Regions from separate parts of the Homo sapiens genome. Here region 2 is linked to region 1. The links come from fine-mapping of genetic effects on gene expression. Tissue or cell type: monocytes. Region 1 holds a variant in brackets; the other region holds the start of a gene. All regions are shown on one strand. Distances are from middle to middle.

What was found. PIP is the estimated chance that this variant, and not a neighbour inherited with it, causes the effect.
Region 2: RMND5A starts here. The variant in region 1 is the best candidate, but not a certain one, in a credible set for the expression of RMND5A in monocytes (Fairfax 2014, PIP 0.78).

The regions. Positions count from the first base shown.
Region 1 is chr2:86,773,328-86,778,327 of GRCh38, forward strand. It overlaps RMND5A (required for meiotic nuclear division 5 homolog A), which reads left to right. Exons shown (of 9, transcript NM_022780.4): 9 at 21-4,714. The coding sequence ends at 84. Among named protein-coding and RNA genes, the nearest start is that of CD8A, 15 kb to the right of the region's middle. The variant TTTC/T (reference allele first, on the strand shown) is at 1,998.
Region 2 is chr2:86,718,034-86,723,663 of GRCh38, forward strand. It overlaps RMND5A (required for meiotic nuclear division 5 homolog A), which reads left to right and starts at 2,258. Exons shown (of 9, transcript NM_022780.4): 1 at 2,258-2,776. The coding sequence starts at 2,635. RNF103-CHMP3 (RNF103-CHMP3 readthrough) reads right to left here and starts at 3,089. Exons shown (of 8, transcript NM_001198954.1): 1 at 2,949-3,089. RefSeq lists an enhancer at 1,451-1,984 and silencers at 2,105-2,294, 2,178-2,336, 2,815-2,874.

The DNA.
Region 1 (5,000 bases):
GTTTTCTTCTTTGTCTTTAGATTAAAATGTCCCTACTGTCCAATGGAACAAAGTCCAGGAGATGCCAAACAGATATTTTTCTGAAGAGATAACTTTAGTTTGCAATTTGTAAGTGAAACTGAATCGTGGGTGCATTTCAGAAGAGAACGTTCCATATAATGCAGCTAACCAAGGACTCCTGTGTTTCTATAAGCTAATGCTCCAGAAACTTTGCCAACCTGTTAGTGTACACACACTGAGGGGAGTGCTCCCGGTGAATATTATCATAGGGCTTTATTATATTCTTGGTCTTCATTTCTGATCAAGTAAATACACCAGCAGTTGTCATTCAATGCAGGTTTTTGTACTTAATTATATGGTGATTTTTTTACTTTTTAAGAGCAGAAACGGAAATTGACCTCCCCGCCATGTGTTTAATATTCCTCCTGCTTTTACTTTTGTCATTTTCTTGATAATCGTAAGCCTTGAGAGTGTTTGTGAAAAAGTTTTATTTCCTGTTATGTATACATAATTAAATGAAAATTCTTCAGAAAAAGTTTGATAAATTGAATTGTGGTTATGAAACTAATTTGCATTTTTATTTGCTTAAGAAAGAAAGCTGTGATAGATTCCAGATATGCTTTTTGATGTTTTCCTCTGCTCCAGCTCCAAGAAGTCAGCACACCTGCATTTTAGCTCTGCATGCAGCCCCAGCAGGCTGCGTGTTTAAGAATTTCATTGTTTAACTGGCTGGTGTGAGAAGTCTTCCGTTAGCATAGAGTGGAAGGAGTACTATTGTTTGGTTGGGTTTTTGTTTGTTTGTTTTTTGTTTTTGCTTTTATTGCCAAGAGGTGCTTGTTTTAAAAGTATGTTTAATAAAATGAAATTCTAAAGTTAGAAGTGTTCTTAAGTTGATATTTACTCTCTTGGTCTTGGTAGCCCTATTATATCATTGCAGACACAGTGTTGTGCATGTGTGTATTGTATATGTGCACCAGCATCAAACATTGTGTATCTGGAAGGAAAGCAGCATGTTCCAGTTCTAAAATGCAGTTACCAGACCCATCACTTTAAATCCTTAAAGTTAGAAGCTAGCAAATTTTCTGTAGTGCAGAACGTTTATTGCTGTTTTTGTGTTTGAATAGTATAATGTTTGATGCCTCTCTTCTGCAAAGCGTATCATCTCATTGACTGTGAATCTGTATATTATTCTGATGGATACAGATAATGATCTTTTCTCTTGTGAGGTATCTTCATTTATGCACTGTCCAAAAATAGCCATGTGTAAGAGTCTTTCTGTATGACGAACTACATGGAAAAGACTTCTGTGGACATAATTCTGACCGAAACCCATGAAGTTACTTCAGTATAAGAAGAACGTTACACGGAAATCACCAAATATTTTGCAACTTTATTTCTTCTGACATGGAGTGAACATCAATAGGAATACTTTCAAAGAAAATGAAAACACAGAAGCAAAGAGAAATGTGGCACTTCACATTTTAAACTACAGATGGACTTGGTTTGAGGGAGGGGGAATCACAGATTTGGTGCTAAGTTAATTAGAAACTGGCAGCGTTTTACAGTAGTACACCAGCCTGGATGTTTTTTCTAAAATGTTTACCTGGGAGAGCTGGGGTTTGTTTGTGAGGAGAAAGAGTACTGTGGAAAACCTCTGCTTGAGTACCATGTGGCCAGGCCTATGTGGATGGCTACTCCGTGCTGTGCGGCTTCACCAGCGGTTGGGATTGGCCCAGCTTGGAGTGCTTGTGTGGTCCAACCTCAGTCTGGCCCCATAGCGACTTTTGCCCCATGATTCTGCTTCACTGTTGGAATCCTCTTTGAAGTTCCCCCTCTCTTTGCTAAAGCAGTGAAGGAAGAGAACAGAGACAAACTCTTTGGACTGTGAAAGAGAAGGTAGAGAATTCCAGGCAACAGTCTGACCAAGGGTGTAAACCAGTTTATTATATATATATTTTTCCTTTGAATTAAAACCTAGAGTGTTGTATTTTTCTTTC[TTTC/T]TTTTTTTTTTTTTTTTTTTTTACCCTTTTTCTCCTTAGGCCAAGTTTAGCTTATTCTTATCTTTCCACCCAAACACCTACACAACGTTTAGGCTTCCTGTAAGGTTTGAATGAGACAGATGTACTCTGAAGGCTGGTGGTAAATGTGTTTGATGACCAGACTCTTCATACAGTCGGCTTGGGCCACTTTAAAGGACAAAAGCCAGAGCTCAGCTTTATCCCTCTCCCAGTGCTGGGAGCCAAAAAACTGTTGACGGTTTTTTGTGCAGCTCAAGAAAACTTTGAAAAGAACATGCTTTAACTGAAGCATTGGACTCTGCAGCTTTCTGTGTAAGGCCCGTGTACTCCCACTGGGCAGGGTGAGGACCAAAAATCTGAAACTCTTATGAATCTGACATATTATATGGAAATTATATCTTGTGACCGTCTTCAAGTGCATGGACTTAAAATTCATGAGAGACTAAATGTGAGGGAGAGGTGGATTTAAAGAGGCCAGACCTTAACCAAAGATGCTGAGATACAGCATTCTGTCCCCCCTGCCCTAGAAACTCCATAAATGCTGTCACAACCCTATCATCGCTGATGCTTTCTGCATGTCAGCAGTCCAGGAGGATGCTTTTTGTCTCTCTTTGCCTCCACTTTACAAAAGATAATATGATAGAGGCAACGTTTATAACAGTCACATTTAATTATAATGTACATCAAAGGCAGAATTTCAGAATGGTTTCTTAAATTTCCTTGGGAACCGTTTCCACATATCAGTTATAGACAAAGGCCATGGGACTATGCTAAACCAATAAAACCTTATTAGCAAATCTTTAGATTCTGACTTAGCCAGAGCATCTGAGTGTTCAAGTACAGTTTTACAGTGGCTAAGGTTGTCTCTTGATCTTTTTTCTCCGTTGTGTGATCACAGATGCTATTTCTGTTTTATTGGTGATTATACGAGACTTCTAATACATAAATGAACGGGTATTGGTGCCTCTTTATTTTAAAAAATTTGAAGAAAAGAGCCACCTCATATTCATAGGGTGTGTATTTTTTGAGTGTGAGCATTTAATTGAAAATAAGAAAGCTATGAAGTAAATGTTAACTTCTCTGTAGCAGCTAATGCATAGAGACACTAAAACCCACACCACATTTTGTGGGAAATGAGGATCCTGATCCTCTTTTGTCCTCTCCAGGTAGTCTCGCAGGTTATGCAGCTTAAGTTCAGTCTTCTTTATGCTGCGATTGATTTCCACCTCAGTGGCTTAGCCTTTGGGACAGTGGATACTGCAACAGCCAAGAACTCTTGGTTATCCGCACAAGCTGCTGGTAGACTACATTAGCCCTCTGGTTTTCCAGCTCAACCTCTGATAAAGTGGACTGAGAGCCACGCTGCTCAGTCTGTTTCGTCAGCCGACTCAGGTTATTTTCAGGGAAGGCATGGAGGCATAGTTTGGTTAGTTTCATCACTAGGATGTATAAGGTGACGACACAAACCAAATACCTTTCTTTCATCACTTAACTATACGTACTTTATCTCTGGTAACACTAGAATGCTGTGGTCTTGAGGGAATGTTAGCAAGGAACACATAGAAGATTTGGTGTTTCATAAGCCTGTCTAGGTGTGGCAGGTTTTGTGTGGTACACTGATGTTTACCATAAGCAGGTACAAGCTTCATGAACCGTTCTTAATGAACTATAATTGAATAGATACCAAAAATAGAATGACAAATGTATTTTAATAGCAGATGAGGCAGTTTTAGGATGAATTTTCCACTGTTGATTTTACTTCAAGACATAGCAAGAGAAACAAAATTTTGTTTTCAAGACATTTCCACTGCAGTTTCAAGCTGTAGTGGGCATATGCTTCATTTACTTCCAAAGAGGCAAAAGCAGCTGGAATTGGCTTACAGCACATGCTTTGTTTCATGTTATGGGTGAGGACCTACATACACTCTTACTTTAGCAGTCACTTAACCTTCTCCAGCAAGGCAGTTGTGGGGTTCACTAGGATTTAGTGCCTGATCTTTTTTTTGGGAAGGGGCGGGAATGAATGTGTTGGGGCTGGGAGGGAAGCAGAAGAAAATGGGAGTGTGAGTGAGTGTGCATGTGTCTGAAGTTCACCATTGCCCCCACCTGCACCTAGCAAGGAACAGGTGTTTGATGTATTTTGCTCATGACTGCAGTATGCATGTATTTTTTTCCTTCTCTGTGTTTTCTAAACTTACACTAAAGGATTCATCAAATCATCTTGTTCAGATGGCTCAGGATTGTATTTATTTTGCTTACCCCGTGCTCTTGGGTTCTATAGTATTTCTATAATTATGTAACGAGAATAGTGTTGCACTGTAATCTATCATATAGAGCTATATGTATGGAAAATTTTGATCAATTTTTTAAGAAATGTATCCTGTTTGCAAAGGCACAGTAAAGTTGCATCTTATAGACTATAGGCAATAAAGCTAACAATAAACCTTATTTAACACAAACCACATCCATATCCTCTGTTCATTTGATTTTGGAAAAAGTAGCATATCCAGTAGTTTCAGGGAATTCATTTTAACTTTAAGAATTCTGATATATTTAATTTATAAATTTCGGACTGATATAATAGAGTTTTGGAAAACTATAAGAAATGCTTTGTTAATGTGTGTATTCCTATGTAAAACACATGGCTTTTCCTGTGTATATTTTTAAAAATTAAAGAAATGCACATTTAAAAAGTGTTTTGTGGAACCAGTCTGTATAAATGTGCCAGGTGACAAAGGTATGAGGGAGGGAGTAGGGAGGTGCTGACTGTGAGAAGAGAAAATTGCTGTCTGTATTTGCTAAGGGTCTGCATGTCAAGAATTTAAGAAAATATCTGTCCCCATCTTACTGTGTTTCTGTGCCACCAACAGTGAGAAGAGAAGGTGACTGAGCAGTGTCCCGAGTTGTTTTTTGTTGTTGTTTTGAGACAGACTCTCACTCTGTTGCCTGGGCTGGAGTGCAGTAGCCCAATCTCGGCTCACT
Region 2 (5,630 bases), 55 kb before region 1:
GGGTGGGAAAGTGCTTCATGCCTGGATAGGGGTTTGTGCTGTGTTGCTACACAGGGCAGACCATGTCCTTGAGAGAGGATCTGAAGCTGTAGGTAATGAGGAGTCATTGATTATTTGTGATCAGTGGATTATCATGGCTCTTACCTTGTGCCAGGCATTTTGTTGAGTGCCTTAAATGGAATATTTCATACTATAACAACCCTTTGAAGGAGAAGAAAAAAAAAAGACTGAGAAAAGGGTGACTGAGCTTATCAAGGAGATCCTTGAAGAAAAGGGAGGAATAAACATAGATTTGTCTAGGCAGTTTGGCAGTGAAAGAAATGAGTGCTTGAGGAGGGTTAAATTAAGTTTCCTCCCCCAGGTAGGTCAAACCCATTTGGGCTGAAAGTAGAAAGGAAGAACCTACTGCAGAGAAAGAGGGGGAAGATCTGGACAGGGGTGAGAGGCAGCCCGCAGGCCCCAACGGCTGTCTTGGAAAGGGAGAAGGGACTCCTGGTCCTTTGGGTACATGAGAATGTTCACAAAATGGGTGGTACACAGCAATACTTGGAGAAGAGTGATAGAAGTTGCTGGAGCTAGATTTTTTTTTTTTTTTTAATCTCAGTGAAGAATCAGAGACATCTGCCAAGAGGGAAGAAAAATGGGGTGGGGAGAAGGGAGATCTGAAATAATACCAGTTGGGGCTGCCCTAATAATGACTACTACCACCTTTATCATGTGGTTATCATGAGCCTATTATGGGTATTTACATATATTCTCCTTTATCTAACAATTTAGTTAAGTATTAATTCCAATTATTTCTCAGTTATACGGAAGTTAAGGCTCAAAAACGTTATCACGTTAATTTAAGAAAAAGAATTGCCTACCACCTCACGCCAGGGGCTGTTCTAGGCAAAAAATTTAGACAAGCAGGGGGCCTGCCGTCATGGTTTTATGTAAGTGGTGCAGACAGAAAAATAAAACATCAGATCATTTCAGAGTTTAAGTGGTGTGGAAATAATAAAATGTGTTATGGTATTAACGGTGGGGAGGAAGTACATTAGTGTGGTCAGCCAGGGGAGGACCCTGTAAGGGGACAAGTGAGCTGAGAAGAACTTCAGGATGAAAAAGGTAGGAGGAAGAGTTTTCTGGGCCAAGGAAAGGGCAAGTGCAGAGGCCCTGAGGCACGAACTAGCTGGGCTCCTGAAGAAATGCAAAGGTAGTGCAGCCGATGCTGATCAAGGAGGTCTAGGCCAAGGCTGCAGACGCCATAGCAAGCGATGGGAAGGATTTACCCGAGGGGGTAAAGCCGATCCGATCCGATAGCATAAGGCTTCCTAGGGAGCAAGGGCCAGGCTGCCCGGCTCTCCAGCGCGTGTTCTTTCCACCCGGCTAAGCTGCCCGGCACATGGCTCTGGGGCGAGGCCACCGTCAGGAGAGGTTCCAGGCCAAGGGGCCAAAGGGCCACGGTCCGCGGGGGATGGGGACATGACCTCCTGGGTGTCGCAAGCCCGGGGCAGCGCTGACAGCCGGCGCGGGCCTTTCGCGAGCAGCAAGCGGCTCCCCTCACCCGGGCCCAATCACCCCCGCCTTTAATTCCCATTAGGGACCCCCCGCCGACGCAGAACCAGCCCCCGGGCGGCCTGGCTTGGTTTTTCATTCCCGGGAGATGGATCCGTCGCCCAAAAGTTCGGAATGACGGTACCCCTTTCCCTTAAGATCGATGAGGAGACGAAATAAATTGGGATCAGGGCGACGTCCTATGGAAAACAGCCTTTTGTATTTTTGTCTAGTTTTCCCCCAAGGCTTTCCATAAACTACTCGTTTCTCGGTACGCTCTCCAAGTCACCCCCTCCAACAGCGAGCCCGTTGGTTTGGCCCCTCAGCCCGGATTGGCTGAAGGCTTACGCCTCGGCCAGGGATTGGCTTCTTACCACTCCCCGCGCCCATTGGTTGGGGTTCCCCGCTTCTGGGCGGAGTGGTGAGGGCCGGTTTCCGCCTCCTTGTTTATGGAGCGCGTAGTTGTTGCGCTCTCCGAGCGCTGGGGCTGTCTCCAAAGTTCCCTATTTAGCTCCTCAGGCCAATTGGGGCCTCGCTCCACCCTCGCCCTCTCCCTCGCACGCCTTCCGTGTGGTACGGCCCACACCATTAGAGTGGCGGCGCGTGTGGGCGCCCGTCGCGTTCCTCCGCCCGTTCTCGCCGGGTCGCACCCCCCACCCCGAGGGTGTACTTGGTACGGCCCGCGCCGCCTCCTTTCCTCGCCCGGGTGGCCATCCCCCTCCCCCCAGTCGGCGGCGCTTGGTGCCGCCCGGGAGAACCAGGTCATCGGTCGGTTCCCGTGAAAACAAAAACAATCGGCCGCGCCGTCGCAGGCACCCGAACGTCGCGAGCGGGGCCTGGGGACGCGGAGCCGAGTGCAGCGAGCGAACGGGAGCAGCGGCGACTCGCCGGGGGGCTAGGGCGCCATGGGGCAGGCGGGCTCCGGCTGCGCGGGGCTCCCCCGGCGCCGCGGCTAGTGCGCCCGCCGCCTCGGCCGCCTCAGCCTCCCGCGCCGCCCGCTTGGGGAACGAGGAGCAGGACGCGGCCTCGGTGGGGCCCGGGCCGAACGGCTGCGGACACCTGGGCGCCGAGGAGCCGAGCGCCGCCGCCTCCGGCATGGATCAGTGCGTGACGGTGGAGCGCGAGCTGGAGAAGGTGCTGCACAAGTTCTCAGGCTACGGGCAGCTGTGCGAGCGCGGCCTGGAGGAGCTCATCGACTACACCGGCGGCCTCAAGCACGAGATCCTGCAGAGCCACGGTAGGGCGGCCCGCGTGGGCGCGCGGGGCATGGCCCACTGCCCGAGCCCCGGTCCCGGCCCCGCGGCGGGAATCCCTCACCCACCCTCGCGCCTCTGGCCCGGCCCTTGCCTCCCCTGAGGCGCGGAGGCCCCCAGACCCCTGAGACTTTTTCCCCTCTTCGTCCGATTTACCTCGAACCTGCCGCGACCTCGCTGCCAATTCAGAAGGAGCGCGAACCACCCGGAAACCCAGCCGGGAGCGGCGGGCTCCAGTCCGGATAAACGTGGGTGAGGGGGCCGCCCATCGCACCTGCAAACTGCCGACCCCCGAGTGGGCGCCCCTCGTCCCCCGCTCCCAGCCGGCCCCGGGAGTCTCACGTGGTGCCCGCGGCGCTGTTCTGTGGGCGGTGACTGAATCGCCTGGGACCCCAGGTTCTGAGTGATGAGGGCAGTGCAGGAAGCTCCGTTTCCCCTCTGTGCCGCCCCGAATCCTTGGCCAGGGGACTTCGTTTCTTCGTTTTATTTTGGAAAGTCGAGCGTTATTCTTAGCTGTGGGTTAACAACAGCCGCTCCTGCAACTTCATGATTTGGCTGCTGTGTGGACGCAGCTCTTAACTCCGCAGCGGCTCTGACATGGTTCCTTGGAAACCAGCTCAATTCAACCCTTCTGTTCTCCCAGTGTACCTTCTGATGACACCGAGGAGGAACGGGCGACATTTGCCCAAGTAAATTGTGCACATGTTGCTAGTTACTTGCTTTGCCTGGTTAAGTTCGTTCAAAAAAAATAAATTTTCCTATAGAAGGTGTTTCACCTAGATTGTTTTTTTTTTTACTGCCCCAAGCCCTGAGGACAGGTACTTTTAAAGGTTTGGTTTTCTTACACTTTAGAAGTCACAGCGATGATTCCTTTTGATCAAGAAGTGAAGGACTTATTTAATGGGTCTTTAATAAGAGGCTGAGGGGGCTTTTCAGCTTGTGGGCTGAACAGAAATTTATGTGAAGGACGGTTTGGTAGCTGGGGGAAGATGCAGATTATTTGTGGCAGGTGAGATGAGGGCAGTGGCGTTAGCTGAGTGTCTCTCTCCTTCTCCTTCATTTTTTCACACTTTCCCAGACTGCGTTTCAGTTGAGGATGGGTGCTGGTCCATGGGAAAGGAGTCTTACAGCAGCTTCTCATTCTGGACACTGCAGTCATTTTTGAACTCCAGGAAGGAAGCAAACCTGCAGTCATAGTGGATGAGATTTTAATATGGAAAAACCGTATTAATTCTCATAGGAGTTGCAATACTAGTATGGAAAAACGAGCAGACCTTGGTGGCTGCCTGTGAAGGGAAATTTGACTGACGTGGCGATGATGATATAGTTGGTAGATACAGGGAAGTGAAGGTGGAATGGGACAGGAATCCTGGGAAGACTTTGAATTTGGTTTTGGACATGTGAAGTAAGGTTGAAGGGCTTAATGAAGATAGAATCGAGGGCTTTCCTATTTACTGGTGGCTGGAGATGCATAGGTCTAAGATTGTTTTCTGATGTCATTTCTAGGAGGACAGTGGAGGGGATCACTTAGATTGCACAGAAGAAAGACTAGAGTCTAACCACAGTCTTGAATTTTCCTTGGCGAGTGGAGAGCCAAGGCTAGATAGAGCCAGCAGAAATCGAAAAGGGCGAGGACTTAGAAAAGGAGAGATTGGTCAGCTTTTATTTGGCTATTGGGAGTCAGTAACCCTCTGTGCTTGCAGTTTCATAGAATTGCTAAGACAAGCCAGATTACTGGGGGTTAAGAAGAAAAATTCGATGTGAACCGAGGTGTGGGAAATCCAGTACAGCGGTGGGAGGTATTCCCTCTGTGCTCCCGGCCCTGCCAAGGAACCAGTGGAGGAAGAGAATGAAGGGCCTAGACTTGGAGAGGTGGAAGGAACATTTCGTTTTTAGGGACCAGGTCATAGGCAGAGTTTGAGAGGAAAATGATGGAACAGAAAGTACCTTTCTTCCATGAGAGAGGATGTAAGTTGAAGGGGGATGTGATTGTGAGCTTTGTTTTAGAAAATTTAGGGCCAGGCTCAGATGGATAAAATGATGGTGAGAAATTGCTGAGGCAGGAATTTGTTTTTGACTCTCCACTGGGTACTAGGGAACTTTTCTCAGAATTTATGGTTTGAGGGGTATTGGCCACACAGTATGCTATGCTGTTAAAAACAGTCTGAGTTGGTGAGTTTGTGTGTTCCCTTTTCAGCCTCCTAATTTTTTCCCTCTTGTCTACCAAATTGCTAGTCTTATATTGGTATCTCTTTGATTTCCTTTAATTCTTCAATAATAGGATTAAGTGACTAAAGGTAGTTATAAAACATGAAAGAAAATAAATACCACAAGTGCCAGGTCTAGTTTCCCAAATAAAATCTTTCTTCTTTTGGTGTTTTTTTGTGTAAAGATAAACATCATGCTTTGGCATCTGGGCTATGGTATTTTTGAAAACAGATGATTTCTAAATTAAAGTTCTCGGCAGGTGATGTGGTAGATATTACATTGAAACTTAAATATGCCCTTCTCAAAGGTATTTTACTGAAAACTGAGTTTGGAACTCTATTTTCAAGTTTAAAGGGAAGATTTTTGGGCTTCTGAATATACCTGTCTGGGCAAATGATTCTGATAACCTGAGAGGCTCTAATTGGGACCCCTCTGTCAGGACTTTGGACCTCATTCTCTGAGATTACTTGTGGTAATACTTGCAAGAATCTGGTATGAATAAAACAGAATTTTTGAGGACTATATAGAACACATCATTGCATCATACTGGTGAATGACTGTTGCAGAAGCATCCTTTAGCCAACCTAAAGGGATTGGTTCAGTTTCTGAGGATGAATGTTTTATGTTAAA